Regions from separate parts of the Homo sapiens genome. Here regions 1, 2 and 4 are each linked to region 3. The links come from fine-mapping of genetic effects on gene expression. A gene starts in region 3. Each other region holds a variant in brackets. All regions are shown on one strand. Distances are from middle to middle. Region 1 holds the start of LOC124900759 (a long non-coding RNA gene). Region 2 overlaps ELOVL6 (ELOVL fatty acid elongase 6). Region 3 holds the start of ELOVL6 (ELOVL fatty acid elongase 6). Region 4 overlaps ELOVL6 (ELOVL fatty acid elongase 6).

Region 1 (5,433 bases), 51 kb before region 3:
ACCAGATCATTGGGAGAACTGATGATATGAGTAGTTGCACTGATGATCTGGAAAAGAACATCGCAGATCTCATGACACAGGCTGGGGTGGAAGAACTGGAAAGTAAAAACAAGATACCTGCCACACAAGAGGTGAAGGTTGCTAATAATTTATACTGAAATCTGGAACACCATTTTTCCAAGCCAAGAGAAGATTGAATGGGTTTTTGCAGCTAACTACTATGTGTATACAGGTTTTATAAAAAGTGTGCATTCTTATCACATACTATATAGTTAGTCTATAGAGTGATTTACCCCCCAGTTTCTTAAACATAGTATCTTCACATCTTGGACCTTGGTCAATTTTGCTATTAACGATTAAACATTAAAACTTTGCTGGTTCCTGAAAAAAAACACACAAAAAAAAACACAGTTTTACTTTCCCAAATTCCTATTCTTCTTTGACCCAACTGGAGGCCACCCTCAGGTGCTTGGGTCAAGTCTTGTCCTTTCTTCAACAGCTTGCATCAACCTCCATCAAGACTGGGGTTGGAATAAATTAAGTGTCTGCTAGGCTAGGCTTCTTCAACCCCAGTGTCTCATGTGTTTCAGCCCTTCAACCAGTGAGTTTAGAAATCCTTAAAGAAATCTTCAGAACAAAATATAAGCATTATAGTGCTTACATCTCAGCACCTACACATCCCTAACAGCATTTTTCAAGTCAAAGCATATATTACATCTATTACAACCTAAATCCACATCATCATTGCCAGCCATAGATTATAGTAGATAGGGTATTAATATTATTGAGTGGAAGAATGTAGATTGTGAAAAATAGTAAAAGCATTATTATTGATAAATTAGCATGGGCTATTTGGAGAAATAATTTGTCTCAGACAACCAAGTGCAGCCTAGAACCAAAACACGCCAAAGGACCTACTTTGGCTCTTTCTCCCTAAGCATTTGAGCCTCAGACTTTTCCACTCCAGAAGGAAAAGCCCATCCACCAAAAAACAGCAGCAACAAAAAGCTTATCCAACAAAAAGTTCTGTTCTGAAAGACAGAAGAGGAGGGCTGGAATTTTCTAAATAATTCCCAGAGACTGGCTTCTTTCTTCTCAGGCCTGGGGAATAGCAGGGCCAGCTTACCTCACCAGCTGTTAGAAGAGAAGAAACCCACACAAGGCCAAAGAGCCCACCCAAGAGATGACAGAAATCAAAATAGTAGTTACCTGGAGGAATGGGTCTTGACTGAAAAGGGGCTCTAGAAAACTTTTCAGTGTCGTGAACAGGTTGTCTATTTTGATCTGAGTAGTGATTACATGTAGGTATACATAGGCAAACATTCATCAACCCATTCACTGAAGATTTGTACATATCACTGCATGTAAATTATACTGCAAAAAAAAAAAAGGAAAAACATTCTCACACACATGCAAAAAAAAACTTTCTTCCCAATAAGAAACACCCCAGCCTTTCCCCAATTTTCTGGATTACTAGAAGTGATTGATTCCAAAGAGAGAATAAAGAGACAGCCCAAAAGAGGAAGACGATGATCTCCAAGCTGACTTGTCCTCACCTCCATGAAATTTCATGGAAGGAAAAGCATCTCAAGGAAAGAGAGGCAAAGAGATTATCAGGGTTCCTCCAAGAGGAAACAATCCTGCACTCACCCTCGCAACTTGGGTCTCATGAAAGAGCATCCATTCAGAAAGTCATCACCTTAAGGTGCACTGTGACTTTAAATCCCTTTCATTAAAAACAACGTGTTCTCCTCTAGGTAAACCTGGCCAAATATATCTGAGAATTCCAAAAGAGCCGTTCTACCCTTTGAGCACTCTCTGCCTGAAAGCACAGTTGCACAATCGCAGTTCAATGAATCTGATTCATCCCCAGGGATATGCCGAATGATCTTCATTTTACAAGGGTTCTTACATTATTTAAATAGAGGAAATACTCCTTTAAAGGCATCAGTTAAGACTTAAAAAAAGAAAAAAGCACAAGAAAAAATATATGTATTAAATATTTTTAAATCTTAAGGCACTGCCATACCCGCATACCCCATGCATGGGCGGGATGGTGGTATCTTCTTCTCCAGCCTGCCCTTTGCCTCCTCACCCACAAACCACCACCACCACTCAGACAGATGGATTGTTCTGTGTTCCTTGACTGGGAAGAAGGATGTGTCAGCAGATAACAAACTTTAAAGGAGTTTATTCTTGAATTGGGATTTTAAAACGTAGGTCAGGCAGTTGGGATGTGTGAGCAGAAGAAAACTAAAAATAAAATAAAAAATGAAAAAATAAAACTTAAGTGCTTTAGAGGTCAAAAAGAAGCCATGCTACATACAGTATATTGAGGAAAACACATGAGTAAAAGGGAAATGTCCCAGTCTTACCCCTTCTCTCTCCAGTCTTCAGCCTCTAGACTAGAAAAGAGTCCTCAGCCTTGAGGAAGAGTTTATCTTACTTCAATGGAAACAGAGAAGTGGTAACAGAGAGTCTAATGGGTCCCAAAAAGAGGAAACTTGCCTCCAGCTCTTGGGCTGTGTAGTTGACATAACTAATTCCATCTTAGAAAAAGACTTCATTTTGGTTGGGCATGGTGGTTCATGCCTGTAATCCCAGCACTTTGGGAGGCCGACATGGGTGGATCATGAGGCCAGGAGTTCAAGACAAGCCTGGCAAAGATGGCAAAACCCCATCTCTACTAAAAATACAAAAATTAGCCAGTCGTGGTGGCAGGCGCCTATAATCCCAGCTACTCAGGAGGCTGAAGCAGGAGAATCACTTGAACCCCAGGAGGCGGAGGTTGCAGTGAGCTGAGGTTGTGCCACTGCACTCACTGGGCAACAGATTGAGACTCCGTCTCAAAGAAGAAGAAAAAGGACTCCATTTTATATTTCATAGAGCACTTTGCCAACAAGGATAAGATGTTCTGTTTAACAAACAAATTAAAAAAAGACTGCTGGCAACCAGATAAGGATGTAAACAAGTGTACTC[T/C]TCCACTATCAGTTCTTGCCAGAGAACTCTGTGACTGTAAAGGATTAGACCTTCTCCAGCTCGAAAACAGCTGTCTTAACTGACTGTCTTGCAGTCACTTGTGATAAGAATTTGGCACCTGCCACCGAAGGCTCTGCCACCTCAAAAACTCTTCTTTCGAGACCAAAGGGACCCCAGGGTGTGACCAGGACTCTTGTCTTCTTAGCTCCCACTGGACTGGTTCATTAATCCTTTCTCCTATCTCTTTTTCCTCTTGATGTTAAATGTTACTTTGTTTGTCATGGAATGTTTAACCTAAAACATTTCTATATTGATGAAATATACTATTATATATGGTTTGCAATATTGACTGACTTGTGGAGTGGCTTGAGTCTGTGTGCCCATGGCTCTGACTACAGAGTGAACAGGAAGTACTAAGAATTGCCTCCTTGGGAACTCCATGTAGCTCGTGGACTGGAATAGCATTAATAAAAGCCTGACATTGTGGAAAGACACACACATGCGTGGACCTGTTTAATCTTGCACCGCTCACGACTGGCTGAGGTCGAGGATGGAGTCAAAACCCCTAGATAGGCCGGTAGTCTCTGGAAGAAATAAAAACCTGGCCCCATTGCTCAGGCAGAGGCTCTGAAGAGAAATGACTGCATAGTGTGCCTGGGCAGATGGTACCAGACACAATGGCAGAAGCTTCCCTGTGCCCTGAACAGCATGAGAGCAGGGTAATTTCCATGCCTTCCCCACCCCCAGAGAAGCACAAAGCAGTACAGAGTGATGAAAAGAAAGGGCCTGTGGAAATGGGAATGTGGATCGTCTAGGCAATTGCATGGTTTATCATCTTAGGACCAGACAGGATGACAGCTATTCCAAGGGATGCCAGTGTCAGCAGATGACATCAAGGACCACACTGACCTTCTGCCTCCCCCTCAACAACCCAGCCATGGTCACTGCTAGCCCATAGGGCACTCTCGTGGAAATTAGAAAAAGACATCTGCAAAGTATGTGCTGCTTAGAGAATGAAGTGCAGATGAAATGTCAGCCCCCTAGGCTGTCTGCCCCACCTCCACCTCTAAGCTATGTGGCATAATACTTGAGAAACAGATCTCAAGACCAGGCACAGTGGCTGGCACAGGTAATCCCCATGCTTTGGGAGGCCAAGGCAAAGCAACATAAGGAGATCTAATCTCCACAAAAAAAAAAAAAAAATTAGCCAGGCATGGTTGCGCATGCCTGTGGTCCCAGCTACTTTGGAGGTTGAAGTGGGAGGATGGCTTTGGCCTGGGAGGTTGAGGCTGCAATGAGCCATGACTGTGCCACTGCTCTCCAGCCTGGGTGACAGAGCCAGACCCCGTCTTAAAAAAAAAAAAAGGAAATAGACCTCAGGTGGTGTGATCTTTAGACCCGTTTCACACAACCTCCAAACCTGGCTGAACAGCAAAGACTAGCTCATCTCAGGGAATTTAGCTGAAAATCTCAAGCAAACTTAATATATAGCAAGGTAAAATAACATAATTCAAAAAACAAAACTACAGTTAAGGAAATATAACAATATCCACAAGATACAAAAGTTTGTTTTATTGTAATATTATTTTGATGCTTAGTTTTTATCACAAAATTCTATTTCACACCATAATACTTGATAATTTATTCTATGTAGACACAGAGAGGAAAGGGGACCTGGTGGAAATATGAGCTAACCAGTTAACAAAGAGGGGTGCAGACTCTAAACCAGAACAACCACAGGGAAGAACATCTCATCCAAATTCTGAGCTTTATAAAAAAAGAAAACTGGGAGCAAGAGAAAATTATGTTTGCATACGATTTAGGAATCTTTAAATCATTTTCACATACCTTTGTTGATTCCTGAAATATCCCTGCTTCCATGGAGCAGAAATTATTACCTTCTGTTCAGGAGAATGGACTATAAAACAGCAACTCATAGGGAAAAAAAAGAATGTGATAAAGAAGTGAAGAAAGGGGAAGCATGAGATATAAAAGTTTTATTTTTAAACACAGCTATCCATTGACATGGGAAAAATGTGGGATGGGATTCTGAATGATTTTTTTATCCCCTTCCCTTCTTTATACTTCTCTACAGATTTTTTTTTTTTTTTTTTTTTGAGACAGGGTCTCACTCTGATGTCCAGGCTGGAGTGCAGTGGCGTGACATCGGCTCACTGCAATTTCTGCCTCCCGGGTTCAAGCAATTCTCCTGCCTCAGCCTCCCTAGTAGCTGGGATTGCAGGCACCTACCACCATGCCCGGCTAATTTTTTCATTGTTAGTAGAGATGGAGGTTCACCATGTTGGCCAGGCTGGTCTGGAACTCCTGACAAGTGATCTGCCCACCTCGGCCTCTCAAAGTGCTGGAATTAAGGCGTGAGCCATTGCACCCAGCATTTTTCCACAGATTTTTTTATATGCAAAAATTCCTTTTATTATAAGAAGGAGGAAAAGA
Region 2 (5,433 bases), 22 kb after region 3:
AACAGCTCCGTATGTCTTGTTTATATGCAATATCTAGGACATTTGGAATGAAGTAGTTTTCCAAAGCATTATATAAATTAAGTTTTCATTGACCTTAGGCCAGACCATCAATAGCTTGCTAGTTGTCTTTAATATTAGCTTAAATTGTATTTTTTCATGTGAAAATGAAAATAAATATTCTTGTTTTCTCTTTATTTCATTTGGGTTTAATGATTTAATATTTTTGCCCTTTTCTTTTGAAATGGAATTTTGCTCTTGTTGCCCAGGCTGGAGTGCAGTGGCGTAATTTCGGCTCACTGCAACCTCAGCCTCCCGGTTTCAAGCAATTCTCCTGTCTCAGCCTCCTGAGTAGCTGGGATTACAGGCATGTGCCACCACACCCAGCTAATTTTTTGTATTTTTAGTAGAGATGGGGTTTCACCATGTTGGCCAGGCTGGTCTCGAACTCCTGACCTCAGGTGATCCATCCACCTCAGCCTCCTTAAATGCTGGGATTACAGGCATGAGCCACTATACCTGGCCTATTTTTGCCCTATTTTCTGAAGTTTACATACATGTATTTTATTTGTCTCGTCAATTAAATTGTATGTATCTGGAGGCCTAGAATTATGAAGGTATACATATAATCTTTTTTTTTTTAAAGATTTTACCTAACGTAGAGAACTACTAGGATTCATCTTGATAAATAAAAAAATACATACTTTTGCAGAGACACTTGTAAAAGCATAAACATTATCAGTTGTAGTTTTCTGCTTCTTGTGGATAGGCTTGGAGCAGGTAACTTTAATACATTGTAGAAAATTTAAGAAACACAAGTGAAAAGAAGAAAACAAATGTCACCCTGAGATATACACTAACATTTTGGTGTAAGTCTTTCAAAACTTTTTATCCATCTTTATGTTTTTGTTTGTTTGTTTTAGGACAGAGTCTCTCTCTGTCACCGAGGCTGCTGCAGCCTCAGTCTTCTGGCTCAAGTGATTCTCCAGCCTCAGGCTCCCAAGTAGCTGAGACTACAGGCAAGCACCACCACACCTGACTAATTTTTTGATTATTTGTAGAGACGAGGTCTCACTATGTTGCCCAGGTTGCTCTCAAGTTTCTGAGCTTAAGCAGTCCTGACTTGGCCTCTCAAAGTGCTGGGACTATAGGTGTGAGCCACCGCGTCTGGCCCATTTTCCTTTTTTTTTTTTTAGATGGAGTCTCACTCTCTGTCACTCAGGCTGGCGTGCAGTGGCACGATCTTGGCTCCATCTCAGCTCACTGCAACCTTCACCTCCCCAGTTCAAGCGATTCTTCTGCCTCAGCCTCCCAAGTAGTAGTGACTATAGGCGTGCGCCACCACACTCGGCTAATTTTTTTTTAGTAGAGATGGGTTTTCACCATATTGGACAGGCTGGTCTCGAACTCCTGACCTCAAGATCCGCCCACCTTGGCCTCCCCAAGTGCTGGAATTATAGTCGTGAGCCACTGTGCACGGCTCGTTTTCTTTTTTACAAAAATATTATCATAGTTTTCATACCATATTTTTCTGTAGCCTAACTTTTAAGAAATATATAGAATGGATATTTCTGCATGTTGTTAAATACTTCCTGCACCAAACTGTAAATGAGAGAATTTGTTTCTTTAATGTAATGTTCTGGCTGACACATGAAAAGCTTGAGGAGATGCATCTCACTCTTTTTAGGTAGCACATTATTTTTTAATCATTTTTAGACGACAGGGCAAAGAAAACTAGTAGCTTTAGAGAAACACAAAATATACTGAATAATAGTATTACAATTGTTTTAAGTTTGACCAGTCAGGTACAAAATGCAATAAGTTTCAGATTATTTTCTTCATGGATTATGTCATTTTTGGGTAATACTCATCAGTTTGGTGTGAAGAACATTTATGCCAATCAGGGAACTTTTAGGATGTTTTCAACTGCAAGTAACAGAACTTAATTAACTGTAGCCTAAAACATGAAGACTTTTAATTATTTCACATAACAATAACTTTGATTGGAAGCCTCAGTGGTTGTTTAGTGGTTTTAATAATGTTATCAATGACCTAGGTTCTATCTGAGTTTCCGTTTTGCCATTCATAATGTGTCAATAGTTTTTTCTTCATGGTCACAAGGTGGCTGCCATATCACCAAGCTTCCCACACAAGCATCTCAAGCAGAAAGAAAGGAGCAGTGGCATGGGAGCCTTTTTATTTGCTTTCTTGTCAAGGCAAAGCCTCCAAGCCAACTTGCACTCAGTAAGTTTATAAAAGGATATGCTCTTATTTTATTATTATTATTATTATTTATTAATTTATTTTTTAAGAAACAATGTTTCACTCTGTCAGCCAGGCTGGCGTGCAGTGGCATGATTACAGCTTATTGCAGTCTCATATTCCTGGGCTTAAATGATCCTCCTATCTTAGCCTCCCAAGTAGTTTGAACTACAGGACATGCCACCACACCTGACAAATTCTAAAATTTTTTGTAGAGATGGGGTCATGCTATGTTGCCCAGGTTGGTCTTGAACTCTTATCCTCAAGAAATCCTCCAGCCTTAGCCTCTCAATCACTGGGATTACAAGCATGAGCCAACATGCCTAGATCTGCTCTTATTATTGCTATAATTTCATGCCATCAGCCAGGCCTGGTGATGTGTTTCACTCTTGGACCATTCACTGACAGAGGATGGGGATTGCTTTCCTACACCAACTCTTAAATGACAAAGAGGCCGGGCGTGGTGGCTCACGCCTGTAATCTCGCACTTTGGGAGGCCGAGGCAGGCAGACCACCTGAGGTCAGGAGTTCGAGACCAGTCTGACCAACATGGAGAAACCCTGTCTCTTCTAAAAATACAAAATTAGCTGGGCATGGTGGCACATGCCTGTAATCCCAGCTACTCGGGAGGCTGAGGCAGGAGAATCGCTTGAACCTGGGAGACAGGTTGCAGTGAGCCGAGATCGTGCCATTGCACTCCAGCCTGGGCAACAAGAATGAAACTCCATCTCAAAAATAATGACAAAGAATGACAAAGAGAGTGATCGCCTTGAGAGGCTTAAACCAGTCT[T/C]GCACTTTGTCTCTCAAGGGCCAGGCACATTGCCCTCCACACAATATCGGGTAAAGTTTATCTGTTGGCAAAGGAGGGGGATTGGGTTGGCTATAAGTTATCTTTGACCACGCTAGCACAAAAATGTATACTCTCAGAAGAAAGAAACAATTTCAGGTTGCGGTAAAAATCATGTTGGGACTTTTTACATGACTCTTCACAAATGGAAATTTCTTCTAAAAAAATAGAAACTTTGAGGCTAGGCGCAGTGGCTCATGCCTGTAATCTCAGCACTTTGGGAGGCCAAGGTGGGCAGATCACAAAGTCAGGAGTTTGAAACCAGCCTGCCAACATGGTGAAACCCCATCTCTGTTAAAAATACAAAAATTATCCAGGTGTGATGGTATGTGCCTGTAGTCCCAGCTACTTGAGAGGCTGAGGCAGGAGAATCACTTGAACCTGGGAGGTGGAGGTTGCAGTGAGCCAAGATCACGCCACTGCATTCCAGCGTGAGCAACAGAGTGAGACTCCATCTCAAAAAATAAATAAATAAATAAATAAATAAGGTAGAAACATTGATTTATTCATGGTGTTGTTAAATGTAAACTATTGAGTAAATTACTCTTTAATCTCTGAAGATAGAGCTCTAGATACTTTCTTGTTCTTTTTTTTTTTTTTTAACTCACCACTATGCCAATGAGGAGAGCTCTAGATACAAACTTCCTAATGGAAGTGGAAGAATAATGATTTAAACAAGTACAAATGATTAAGAAAGAATAGTTTTACACATTACATGACATGAGATCCTAAAACATGACCCCACATTGAGAAAGCTCTGTGACCATTGATACTGGAATCTATCATTCATCATCAGTTACTCAGCACATAATAAAGATCTCACTTACCCTTCCTATGAAGGCATGACTTAGACTTTATTTGCTGTTACTGTCTCTGTTGGATCATATGATAGTAACATCATAAAGAGGGATGATAGATGTAATGTAACTCTAGGGCTAGACTGCCTGAGTTCTGATCCTTGTTCAGCTTTGTAACCTTGGAGAGGGTAAAAGTCTTCTATAAAGCATAGTTTAATAATAATAAACTAACCTGATAAGAGTTGTTATATTGATTAAATGAGTTAATATATGTAAAGCTTTCACTGATGCTGTATATGTTTTAGTTATGTTGTTATCATTGATGTTACTTACATATGTCAGTATTTAAAATTTTACACACTACATTTACTTTATCTCATAGTCTCCTTCAACCCTATAAAATAGGATTTTTCATCTCCATTTTATAGGTGAGAACATTATATTTATGTCTTTTTTTTTTGAGACAGAGTCTTGCTCTGTTGCCCAGGCTGGAGTGCAGTAGCGCAATGTTGGCTCACTGCAACCTCTCCCTCTGGGGTCAAGCGATTTTCATGTCCCAGCCTCCCGTGTAGCTGGGATTATAAGCGTGCACCACCACGCGTGGCTAATTTTTGTATTTTTTGTAGAGACAGTGTTTCGCCGTGTTGGCTGGCTGGTCTCAAACTCCTAGCCTCAAGTGATCTGCCCGCCTCAGCCTCCCAAAGTATTGCGATTACAGGCATGAGCCACTGTGACTGGCCGATACTTATGTCTTGATTGTATATGAGCCCAACAGTGATTTGATTTTTTTTTTTAGTTTTTTAAATTATAAATTATATTTATAGTATAAACAAATTATAACATACATGGAATTTACACATTCTTAGATTATTTGGTCCGTAAAATTAGATTAAGAAGAAGCGAAAGGAATGATTAGTTAATACATAGGATACTAACAAGTATCCTATGAGTTAATTGCACTCTATAAGAATAATTAGGTTGTTCATTTAGTGCATTATATTCTTGGGATGGTTTTAGGTGCATCTAAATCTAAATATGCCAACTTTGAAGCAAAAGTAAAAATGTAGGTAAAGGTCATGTTATATAGTGTGACAATTTCTTGTGCTTTACATGTATTCTATAGTTGTAGAATTTCCATCTGTGACTAATAGGTCTTATAGCAGAAAAGCAAATTCATTTTAGTGAACGTGTGTTGACATTATAGGAATGTCAACCTAGCACATCAGGAATTCTAAGGTCAATAGAAAACTTGGTAAGTCTAGTCTGATTCAGTAGGGCCACAGGCAAAAAGAGATACCATTTGACCTTTTTAAAAAATGTATGTTCAAAAGTAAAAGCATTCATTATTATGAGAATATATATTTAAAATGCCTGAAGGCCAGGCGCAGTGGCTCACACCTGTAATTTCAGCACTTGGGGAGGCCAAGGCAGGCAGATCACTTGAGGCCGGGGGTTCAAGACCAGCCTGGCCAACATGGTGAAACCCCATCTCTACTGAAAATACAAAAATCAGCCGGGCATATGGTGGGA
Region 3 (5,433 bases):
GACCGTCCTGGCCAACATGGTGAAACCCTGTCTGTACTAAAAATACAAAAATTAGCTGGGCATGGTGGCACATTCCTGTAATCCCAGCTACTTGGAAGGCTGAGACAGGAGACTCACTTGATCCCAGGAGGCAAAGGTTGCAGTGAGCCGAGATCGCGCCACTGCACTCCAGCCTGGGCAACAGAGGGAGACATCATCTCAAAAAAAAAAATAATTCTGGTGAATTAATGGTGTGGATTTAAAATTGTGATATATGCTGGGTGCCTATAGTCCTAGCGTGGAAAACATAACAAGTCCCCATCTCTAAAAAATAAATGAAATTATCATATAGGCTGCCAAATTGCTTTCCATACAGAGTCACCAGTTTTCAAAGTCACTGACAGTGCTTGTTTGTTTTTGAGATAAGGTCTCACTCTGTCACCCAAGCCGGACTGCAGTGGTGTGATCATGGCTCACTGCAGCCTTGACCTCCCAGGCTCAAGCTATCCTCCCATCTCAGCCTCCAGAGTAACTGGGATTACAGGCATGTACCACCACACCTGGCTAATTTTTAATTTTTTGTAGAGATGGAGCCTCACTATGTTGCCCAGTCTGGTCTCTAGCAATTGTCTTGCCTCAGCCACCCAAAGTGGATTTTCTGTCTTGATTCCTTTCTCACTTCTTACCTTAATTTATTTGATGAATCATTCACTTTACAAATATTTATTGATTATTCACAGGCTCAGGCACCGTGCTAAAATGGTTCTTTCTTATCTGGCCACACCTATCTTCCAGCCCAATCTTGCCAAGAGTTTTGGCCTGGGCCTTACTTCAAAGTGACGTAGACTTGTACTGTAGAGGTCTCTAGAAAGACAACCCTTGGCTGGGCATGGTGGCTCATGCCTGTAATCCCAGAACTTTGGGAGGCTGAGACAGGTGGATCACAGCCAGCCTGGCCAACATGGTGAAACCCCATCTCTACTAAAAACACAAAAATTAGGCGGGCGTGGTGGTGCTTGCCTATAATCCCAGCTACTGGGGAGGCTGAGGCAAGAGAACCATTTGAACCTGGGAGGCGGAGGTTGCAGTGAGCCGAGTTTGCACCACTGCACTCCAGCCTGGGCAACAGGGCGAGACTCCTCCATCTCAAAAAAAAAAAGAAAAAGAAAAAAGAAAGACAACCCTTAATGGGGGAGATGAGGACAGTCCCTACACAGAATCTTTGGCAGTGTCAATGTATACATTAATTTGCTAATCAACTAGGCTAGCCCTTTAATCTATATATTGTACTGGATTTTAAAAATTATTTCTTTACTTTCTCATTAGACCTTCCTCTTTTTTTTTTTTGTTTGTTTGTTTGGAGACAGAGTCTCCCTCTGTCGCCCAGGCTGGAGTGCAGTGGCAGAATTTTGGCTCACTGCAACCTCTACCTCACGGGTTCAAGCGATTCTCCTGCCTCAGCCTCCTGAGTAGCTGAGGTTACAGGTGCCCGCCACCACGCCTGCCTGATTTTTATATTTTTAGTAGAGACGGAGTTTCACCATGTTGGCCAGGCTGTTTTGAACTCCTGACCTCAGGTGATCCGCCCACCTCGGCCTCCCAAAGTGCTGGGATTACTTCTGTGAGCCACCACCGCGGCCGGTCCCTTCCTCCTTTAAAAATTTTTCTCCCAGTTCCCACTTTTTGTGGGTTAGAGGCATCTAAATTGAATGAAAGTACCCTTTTTGGACTACTGGGGAGGTGGGGGGATGTTCTCAGAAGGGGAATTTTCTTTCTGGTCCTAATATCCACCTAATTTTTAAAAGCAGGGCTCCTTATTATTTTGTAAAGTTTACAATTACATCATTAGATACTTCCATGTCTCATATTTCATTTTTCCAAACTCTTGGGGGAAATGAGTGGAGGGATGGATGGAATAGAAAATAGTTTTTCCTCTTGGAGGCTGAGGGCCCAGTAGGGGTCAACAGTACATTCAGCCCTCTCCTCACATATTCTGTTCTACCTACAAGTACAGCAAGTAAAGCCAAATTTCTCATGCATGCAAATAAAGTTTTTGCATTTGGCCAGTCGGTCCAGTTCTCCTGTCAGCTTCCTTCCCCACTCTGCCTCTGTTCATTAATCCCCCCCTTCCCGGTACCTAAACCCTCCACCTAACCCAGCCCTTTCTTCCACTTCCGGCTACTAGCCTCTCTCGCCTATCCACTATCCTCACACTCAGCATCCCCTGTCTGTACGAGATTAAGGAGCTCTGCCGTCCGCAGGGCCTGGGTTAGCGTGAATCTAAGCCAGAGCTCCCGGGTGGGGGTGGGGGTAGGGGTGGGGGTGGTCCCAGAGGTAGGGCGAGGAGGTGGGAAGCGTATTCCCTTCACTGGTGATCTCAACGTAGATTTGCCCGGAGTTCTCTTGCAAGAGAGCTGGCAGGTTTTACTATTTCCCAATCGTTTACTCGCCAAGCTCTCGGGTCCACGCGCCGCGGGGATGCGCCCTGCAAGCTGAAACTTCATTCAAAGCAAGGCGGCCCACGAGGTTGGGCTTAGGGGATCTGGATGACCTCCAGGCCACTTCCTTTCTCTCTGCGCCCTTCCCCCACTCTTCCAACCACCTTCGCTGTAAACAAAACTGTCCCCCCCGGGCGGAGAGAGGTCGCGCTCTTTCGCACACTCCCTCGCCAAGGGTTAATTTCTCAAATCGCACGAGGGGGAGGAGATTTCCCTGTAGACGAGTAAAAAGGGTGATGGACAAACGTGCGGGCACTAAGACCGCAAGGCATTCATTTCCTCCTACGGTGGATGCGGACGCCGGGAGGAGGAGAGCCCCAGAGAGAGGAGCTGGGAGCGGAGGCGCAGGCAATGCTCAGCCCTGGATGTAGCTGAGAGGCTGGGAGAAGAGACGACCGCTGGAGACCGAGCGGCGTGGGGAAGACCTAGGGGGGTGGGTGGGGGAAGCAGACAGGAGAACACTCGAAATCAAGCGCTTTACAGATTATTTTATTTTGTATAGAGAACACGTAGCGACTCCGAAGATCAGCCCCAATGAACATGTCAGTGTTGACTTTACAAGAATATGAATTCGAAAAGCAGTTCAACGAGAATGAAGCCATCCAATGGATGCAGGAAAACTGGTACGTGATGCTTTCGCCTGATACTGTTCCCGGGAGCCCTGCGCGTCTTCCCGGAGTGCCTTAATGTCGGTATTCCCTGCCTGGGCGTGAATGGAGCGATGAATCGCGGGCAGCCAGCTGATCGCTGAGTTCTCGGGTCTCCCGGGTGCAGGAGACGCTGGGGGGGGGGGGGTACATGAAGCGCGAGGTCTGTGGGTGCCCCTGTGTGAACCGCGGCTACATAGGCATCTTTTATATAGATTATATAACACAGAACATATGTGTGTGCACAGGGTGATGTCTGCGCGACAGGGAAGGCGGGAGAGATGCCACAGTCCAGATCGCCTACCTGTGCTCCCCTCCCCTCCCCCGGTTTTCATCTAGATTTGGGTTTTCTCGCTTGGCCTCTCCCGCAACCGGAGTGTGAAAGGCAGTGGAGGGAGGACCTTGTCTCCTGTTGCCTTTAACCCTCTCCCGCCCGCCGCCCTTGGCCCTGGTCCTCGCTGTCTCTCCATCCCTCGTGTCCTTCCTTTCTCCTTGCAGCGCTCCTACTTCACCGTCCTCCTCTGTCTGCCGCTCCTCAGGCGGATGCCCCCTTTTTAGTACCCCTTTCCCCACGCGGTTCCCTTTCCGGTTTCATAGAGAGACCGGGTGGGAGGGAGGAGGGGACAATGAAAACAGTAATAAATGAATGAACCCGAGCGAGTGGAGCCACGCCATTATTAAGTTTCTGTTTTACGGAAACGCCTTTTGGACACACTTCTAATTCTGTGCGTAGCTGCTGATTGGAGTTCAGGCACACAGATTAAAAGCCCCTCCGTCTGCAGAGTCCTTAGGGGCTCTTCCCTAGGAAACTAATAATCAGGGAAAACACCTTTCTTGTTTACTGTAGTCCCCCCGCCAGACCTTTTGAAAATCCCTGTGTGGGAGGCGATCCAGTGTCACCTTGCAATATTTAACAGAGGAGGGTGTGCTCATCTCGCTTCTTGTAGACAGGGTTGTGGCAGAGGCATTCCTCTCCTCCCCTTAACTTCGGGTCTGGCGATCTGTAAAGTTCAAGCCCAACGCACCCCGGAGCTAGGCAAGGGGCCGGCAGCCCGGGGGATGGCTTGACCGGGGAGGGTCGGGCCGCAGGGTCTCCCGGGAGCCGGGGGATTCCGCCCGCCGCGTGCGCGAGCGCGCGTGCCCCGCGCCCTCCCGCCTGCCCTCTTCAACTGGAAACCAGAAACGCCGGCGCGCCTGTGGCCTGGGCGGGTTGGTGCAGTAGGAGCTGGTGCCACGGGGCCGCAGCTGCGAAAAGGGGGTTTCAACTTCCTGTCCTCCAGCCCCCTGGAGTCGCCGGCCAGTGTCGGGAGGCCCGGCCGCCGCTTCCTTCTCCTCCCGCCCGGCCGGAGCGCGCCCACTCCCAGCTTCCCGCGGGCTGGTCCGGGCCCCAATGGCCATTTGCGGCGGCTGCCGGGCGGAGCCCGCCTCCTGGGCCGCGCGCACCGGCGGGGCAGGCCTGCTTGGGGTGAGCTGCGGCGTGGCTGGTGGCGGCGGTGGGCTAGGGGCCCAAGGGCCGCGTCTGGCCCGAGCCGGAGCCTAAGAGGCGGGGACGCGGGCCGCTCGGAAGGACTGGAAGTGCAGCAGCCACACAGGCACAGGGCTGGTGCCCTCCCGGGCCGCTGAGGCCAGGGGGTGCAGGGGTGGGTCCGGAAGGAGGTTGGACACTAAGGGTCGAGACCGCAGATAGACCTCGGCGTTTCGGGGCAGCCGAGGCCCCTCGAGCCCCACCGCCCGGGGTCCTTCTCTGGATGCACTTCCTCCTCCCGCTTAGGGGGTGGTGCTGGAGGCGGGGAGGGGGCGGTGGCCGGAGCCGGCGGGCGCCGGAACCGCGCTGCTGGCTAGCCCCGGGCCCGGGTCTTCTCCGCACATGTTTGTCATATCCTCCAGCCGGCCTGTTCGGGCCCACAGTCCTCCCGCATTAGCCTGTGTGGTCAGTGTGGTCAGCATTTGCTTCTGTGCCGAATCTCTGACTTGCTGCGTCCTGGTTTAACCTGCTCTTCCGGAGTCCGCTTTCCCTCGCTTTGCTGGCTGACCCCATTCACTGTACGCCCGCCATTCCTAGCCCACTGCAGTCGATACTGCCTCTTATTTACTTGTTGCTTTTTCTCTGAGGCCACTTCCTAGGCCTGCTTCAGGTACCATTTCCCGCCTCTTCTCTCCATTCACTCAGTACTGAGCCAGACAGGTCTCAGCCCTCGTGGGACTGAAAATGACAAAAATGTGCCAACGTATCTACTCCTGTTAGGTTCTGACCACTGTTTCCTCCTAGTTCTTTATCTGTACCTTTCTTCTGGCAATATCCTTTACTG
Region 4 (5,433 bases), 48 kb after region 3:
GGATTTTATGTCAATAAGTACATTTCTCATCATCTGTAACTGTGGCAATTTTTAATCCTCCACTATTAATTATCAATTAAGTTTTAGCCCACCATCTATAAGTAGCATTTAAATTATCACACTATTAAAGTTTAAATCACTCAAAAGAGATAAGTAGGTAGTAATTGCTGTCATTGTATTTTGAAGATTAATATTTTGAGCAAAAAATTAAATTATGTATAAGGTCTCATAAGTTATGGAAGCTACCTACTTTCTGCAGAATGGTATGTGTACCACAATTTTACTGTAATTATAATTCCCTTTTCACTATTATTATTAAATCTTAACAGTGATACCAGAAAGTTTTCATAATGTACATTTTGGTTATAATTGTTTCTTCATCTCTGTCAGGGTTCTGGTTTCCTACTTACAAGCTGACACAGGTTGTGCTGCCTGATCATCATTAAAATGTGAATTTCTTATTTTCAAAACCATACCCAAAGGCACATCAAAAAGAAGTGGTTCGTCAACTACTGTGTCATTCCTGCTCTTCAATAGACCAGTGTTTATACTCACGGAGGGGTCACATAGGTTTGGCATCCTCCTTTTGAGAGACGAAGGATTGTCTTTGCTAATTTGAAAAAGCAAATTTTGAAAGAATGAAATGTTCATTTTGAAATAAGGTTTCTAGGACAGTGCAGTAAAATGCTTTCCCCTTCTAAAATTTTCTGAAATATTTTTAGCCTTCTAACATAAGTGCATGTGTACGCACACACTCACATACACTATATATAGCAACCTGGTTGTCACAATCCTCACTACTTCTACGTGTGATCTGTGTATGTGAACCAGCAGCATCACTGCAGAGCTTGCCAGAGATGCAGAATCTCAGGCAGGCCCCACCCCAGACCCACTGAATCAGAATGTGCATTTCAACAAGATTCCCAGGTGTTTCATATGTTCAAATATATCCACAGTGTGAGAAGCTCTGGTATCAGGCATCACTGCCTGGCAGAAAGGCCGGGCGTGGCACTATCTGTATTTTCACGGAATAAATTCTCATTCAGTGACTGAGAGAACCCTTTGTTCTTTTTAAAACAAAGGTGATCCTGAGCTGGGTGTCAGAGAGGTAAGATTTGGGAAAGTAAAGGTTTTATAATTCTAATAGGATGACAATAGCAGCTATATATATAATGCCAGGAAATAATACAGGAGACTCTACCGTGATAGATGGGTTTTTTCCTCAATCATTTTGTCTCTGATCGTGTATTTAGTTAATTCTCTGCAAAGAGAAGTGTCCATAATAGGACTTGATATGACATAAGGTATGCCCTCTTGATAGTCTTTAAGGAAACTTTATTATAGGGTAACCCAACCAATATTAAGTTTTAAAGATATTTTGGGGGGGCATATGGGAGGGCCAAGAGCCAAATCAATAGCAGTCAGCTATTTAGAATGAATCTTCTCATGAATATTTATCTTACTGTTACTCTGTATTAAACTCCCTTTTATTTTACATCTAGGATTTCTACCCAGTTTAGAACTTAGAGATGCCAATATTTTCAGATAAGGACTTTTTAGTTGTTGAATGCTATAACTTGTGTAATATTAATATTCACTGACTGATGATTAAATGTACCCTGTACAATCCATTATCTAAGTTAATCTTCACAGCAGTCCTAGGCAACAACGGACTTTTAAAATCTCCTTTTTACTGACGAGGAAACTCAGAAACCAAGAGATTAAGTAATTCACCAAACATTGTACAGCTAGTAAGTGGGAGAAGCAGGTGTTAAGTCTAGGATCTCTCATTCAAAAGTCCATCTCTTATTTATGATACAAGATTGCCTTTTAGACTTCTTTATGGCCCACAAATGCTGTCTCTTAATGGGCAGGCATGTCAAATCTCAACATCATTATTGGCCTTTTGGTAAATAATTACATATATAGAAGTCTTCTGACACACCCAAGCATCTATCCCATAGGTCAAACCCAAATACTGATCTTATTGGCAACTCATTAATATAACAATGGTACAAATTGAACATCCCTAATCTGAAAATCTGAAATCAGAAATGCTTCAACTCCGAAACTTTTTGAGTGCTAACATGACACCAAAAGTGGAAAATTCCACACCAGACCTCAAGTTGTAGGTCCAGACAAAACTTTGTTTAATGCATAAAATTATTAAAATTATTATATAAAATTACCTTTAGGCTATGTTTATAAGGTGTATATGAAACAATCAATTTTGTGTTTAGACTTGGGTCTCATCCCTAAGATATCTCATTATGTATATATAAATATTCCAAAATCCAAAAAAAAAAAAATCTGAAATCTGAAACACTTCTGGTTGGTCCCAAGCATTTTGGATAAAAGATACTC[A/G]ACCTGTATTAAAAAATATTGAAATCTTTAGTCATGTAGAATTTATGCAATTAAAAGGTGCTGAAATTCAGTTAAGAATTTCAAAGTTAAAGTTTATATTTTAAATTTTTTTTTTTTTTTCAGACGGAGTCTTCCTCTGTCTCTCAGGCTGGAGTGCAGTGGCACGATCTTGGCTCACTGCAACCTCCGCCTCCCAGGTTCAAGCAGTTTTCCTGCCTCAGCCTCCTGCGTAGCTGGGATTACAGGCATGTGCCACCACGTCTGGCTAATTTTTGTATTTTTAGTAGAGACAGAGTTTCACCATGTTGGCCAGGCTGGTCTCAAACTCCTGACCTCAGGTGATCCGTCCACCTCGGCTTCCCAAAGTGCTGGGACTACAGGCCTGAGCCACCGTGCCCGGCCCTAAAACTGTATTTTTATTTTAAAATATGAATATCTATTATCACTAAGTAATAAAATTAAAGCTTGGAAATGAAAGGATCATACAATGCAAGAGTATCTAAAGTCATTTAAATAATGTCAAGAATAATGTTTTAATTATTCTGCTCTTAGAATTTTAAGCATTTTTAGTTTTAAAAATAAAAATGGAGTATTTTTGACAATATTTTGCTTAACATTCCCTAATTGCTGAGAAATCATCTGTTTCAGAAATTAGCCATTGACAGATAATGAGTTTGAGATTCCCTTTTGCCAGAAAAAATTGTAGTAACATACAATAATATGGAAATTGCCAGTATGTTTGGGTATTTATTAGATTGAGAACTATTTCAAACACATCTAGATCAATCTGTAAGCAAAGAATCCAAAACTTGTGAGTTTATTTCTTGTCGCCTGTCTGTTTAAGTCTGACAGTTTAGGCAAGGAGAATGTCTTATGAATTTGAGTATAATGAATTTGTGGAGGGGTTTTACTGAATGCATTTTCAGGATTATTTTGAAAATACATGAAGTAGACTGAACACGGTGGCTCACACCTGTAATTCCAGCACTTTGGGAGGCCGAAGCAGAAGGATTGCTTGAGTTCAGGAGTTCAGGACCAGCCTGGGCCACATAGTGAGACGGTGTCTCTATGAAAAACTAAAACTAAAACTAAAAATAAAATGCATGAAGTAAATGCAGAAAAAAAAAGAAACAGTTTCCATTCAAATTTCTACTTTTCAAATCTGAAACACATAACTGTTCACTCTCACTACATGATGTACTTGTTTTAAGGGGAAGAAAAATTCAAGATTTAAGAAGGCATTTATTTACGCTCTCAAAAATCTATAGGATACAGTCTTTGAAAATGAATACATTTATTAATTATTTTTGGGGTGCTTACAACATGTTTTTCTATGTTGGTCTTTTCTAAGTGGAGATTTTTCTATGTAGGCAGATAAATACCAGTATTAGGAAGAGATATATATTTATACTCATGGAGTACAAGTGCAGTTTTGTCACATGAATATACTGCATTGTGGTGAAGTCAGGCCTTCATTGCATCCATCAGTGGAGCAACACACTTCGTACCCACCAAGCAACCTGCCATCATCTATCACCCCATGCCTCCAAGTCTTCATTGTCCATCATTTCACACTCTGCTTCTTCTGTACAAATTATTTAGCTTCCACTTGTGAGAACATGTGGTATTTGTCTGTGTCTGAATTGTTTCACTTAAGATAATGGCCTCCGGTTCTATACATGTTGCTGAAAAAGACATGATCTCAATCTTTTTATGACTGAGTAGTATTCATTGTGTACACATAACACATTTTCTTTATTCGGTCCTCCACTGATGGACACTTAAGTCGATTCCATATGTTTGATATTGTGAACAGAGCTGTGATAAACATAAAAGGGCAGGTATCTTTTTGATATAATGATTTCATTTCCTTTGGGTGTATACCCAGCAGTGGGATTGCTGGATCAAAGGTTAGTCGTATTTTTAGTTCTCGAAGAAATCTCCATAGTTTTCCATACAGGTTGTACTAATTGATTTGCATTCCCGTCAACAATACAGAAGAGCTGGGTGCGGTGGCTCACACCTGTAATCCCAGCACTTTCGGAAGCCAAGATGGGTGGATCTCTTGAGCCCAGGAGTTCAAGACCAGCCTCAGCAACATGGTGAAACCTTGTCTCTACTAAAAATACAACAAATTAGCTGGGCATAGTGGCTTGTGCCTGTAATCCCAGCTACTTGGGAGGCCAAGGCAGGAGAATCGCTTGAGCCTGGGAGATTGACCTTGCAGTGAGCTGTGATGGTAGCACTGCACTCCAGCCTGGGCAACAGAGCGAGACTCTGTCTCAAAATAAAACAGAACAAAAAGTATATAAGCGTTCACTTTCCTCTGCATCCTTACCAACATCTGTTATTTTTTTGTCCTTTTTAAAAAAATTATTTTAAATTTTTGTGGGTACACAGTAAGTGTATATATTTATGGGGTACATGAGATGTTTTGATACAGGCATGCAGTGTATAATAATCACTTCATGGAAAATGGTGTATCCATCCCCTCAAGCATTTATCCTTTGTGTTACAAACAGTCCAATTATACTCTTAGTTATTTTTCAATGTAAAATTAAATTATTGACTATGCTTACCCTGTTGTGCTATCAAATACTAGGTCTTATTCATTCCTTCTATTTTTTTACGTATGTGCCCATTAACCATTCCTACCTCCCCCCCTCCCCCGCACAACCCCCTTCTGGGCCTCTGGTAACCATCTTTCTACTCTCTATCTCCATGAGTTCAACTGTTTAGATTGTACAAATAAGTGGGAACAGAGAAGATGCAGCGTTTGTCTTTCTGTGCCTGGCTTATTTCACTTAGCATAATGACCTCCAGTTCCATCCATGTTGTACATGTATTTTTTGTCCTTTAATAATAGCCATTCTGATTGGTATAAGATGATGTTTCACTGTGGTTTTAATTTGAATTTTTCTGATGACTAGTGATTTTGAACATTTTTTCATATGCTTCTTGGCTATTTGTTTGTCTTTTGAAAAATGTCTGTTCCTACCCTAAACCCACTTGTTAATGGGATGATTATTTGGCTTTTTTTTTTTTTTTTTTTTGAGACCGAGTTTTGCT

The links. PIP is the estimated chance that this variant, and not a neighbour inherited with it, causes the effect.
Region 1: its variant is the best candidate, but not a certain one, in a credible set for the expression of ELOVL6 in whole blood (INTERVAL, PIP 0.83).
Region 2: its variant is the best candidate, but not a certain one, in a credible set for the expression of ELOVL6 in blood mononuclear cells (TOPMed, PIP 0.58).
Region 4: its variant is the best candidate, but not a certain one, in a credible set for the expression of ELOVL6 in blood mononuclear cells (TOPMed, PIP 0.69).

The regions. Positions count from the first base shown.
Region 1 is chr4:110,246,573-110,252,005 of GRCh38, reverse strand. LOC124900759 (a long non-coding RNA gene) reads right to left here and starts at 4,952. Exons shown (of 3, transcript XR_007058229.1): 1 at 4,828-4,952; 2 at 1,210-1,374; 3 at 1-47. It also overlaps the pseudogene HSBP1P2. RefSeq lists a cis regulatory region at 2,825-3,239. The variant T/C (reference allele first, on the strand shown) is at 2,980.
Region 2 is chr4:110,174,312-110,179,744 of GRCh38, reverse strand. All of the region lies in intron 1 of ELOVL6 (ELOVL fatty acid elongase 6), which reads left to right. Among named protein-coding and RNA genes, the nearest start is that of ELOVL6, 22 kb to the left of the region's middle. The variant T/C (reference allele first, on the strand shown) is at 3,050.
Region 3 is chr4:110,195,914-110,201,346 of GRCh38, reverse strand. ELOVL6 (ELOVL fatty acid elongase 6) reads left to right here and starts at 2,732. Exons shown (of 4, transcript NM_024090.3): 1 at 2,732-3,100. The coding sequence starts at 3,012. RefSeq lists enhancers at 2,359-3,151, 4,740-5,034 and silencers at 4,066-4,695, 4,896-5,005.
Region 4 is chr4:110,148,094-110,153,526 of GRCh38, reverse strand. All of the region lies in intron 1 of ELOVL6 (ELOVL fatty acid elongase 6), which reads left to right. Among named protein-coding and RNA genes, the nearest start is that of ELOVL6, 48 kb to the left of the region's middle. The variant A/G (reference allele first, on the strand shown) is at 2,365.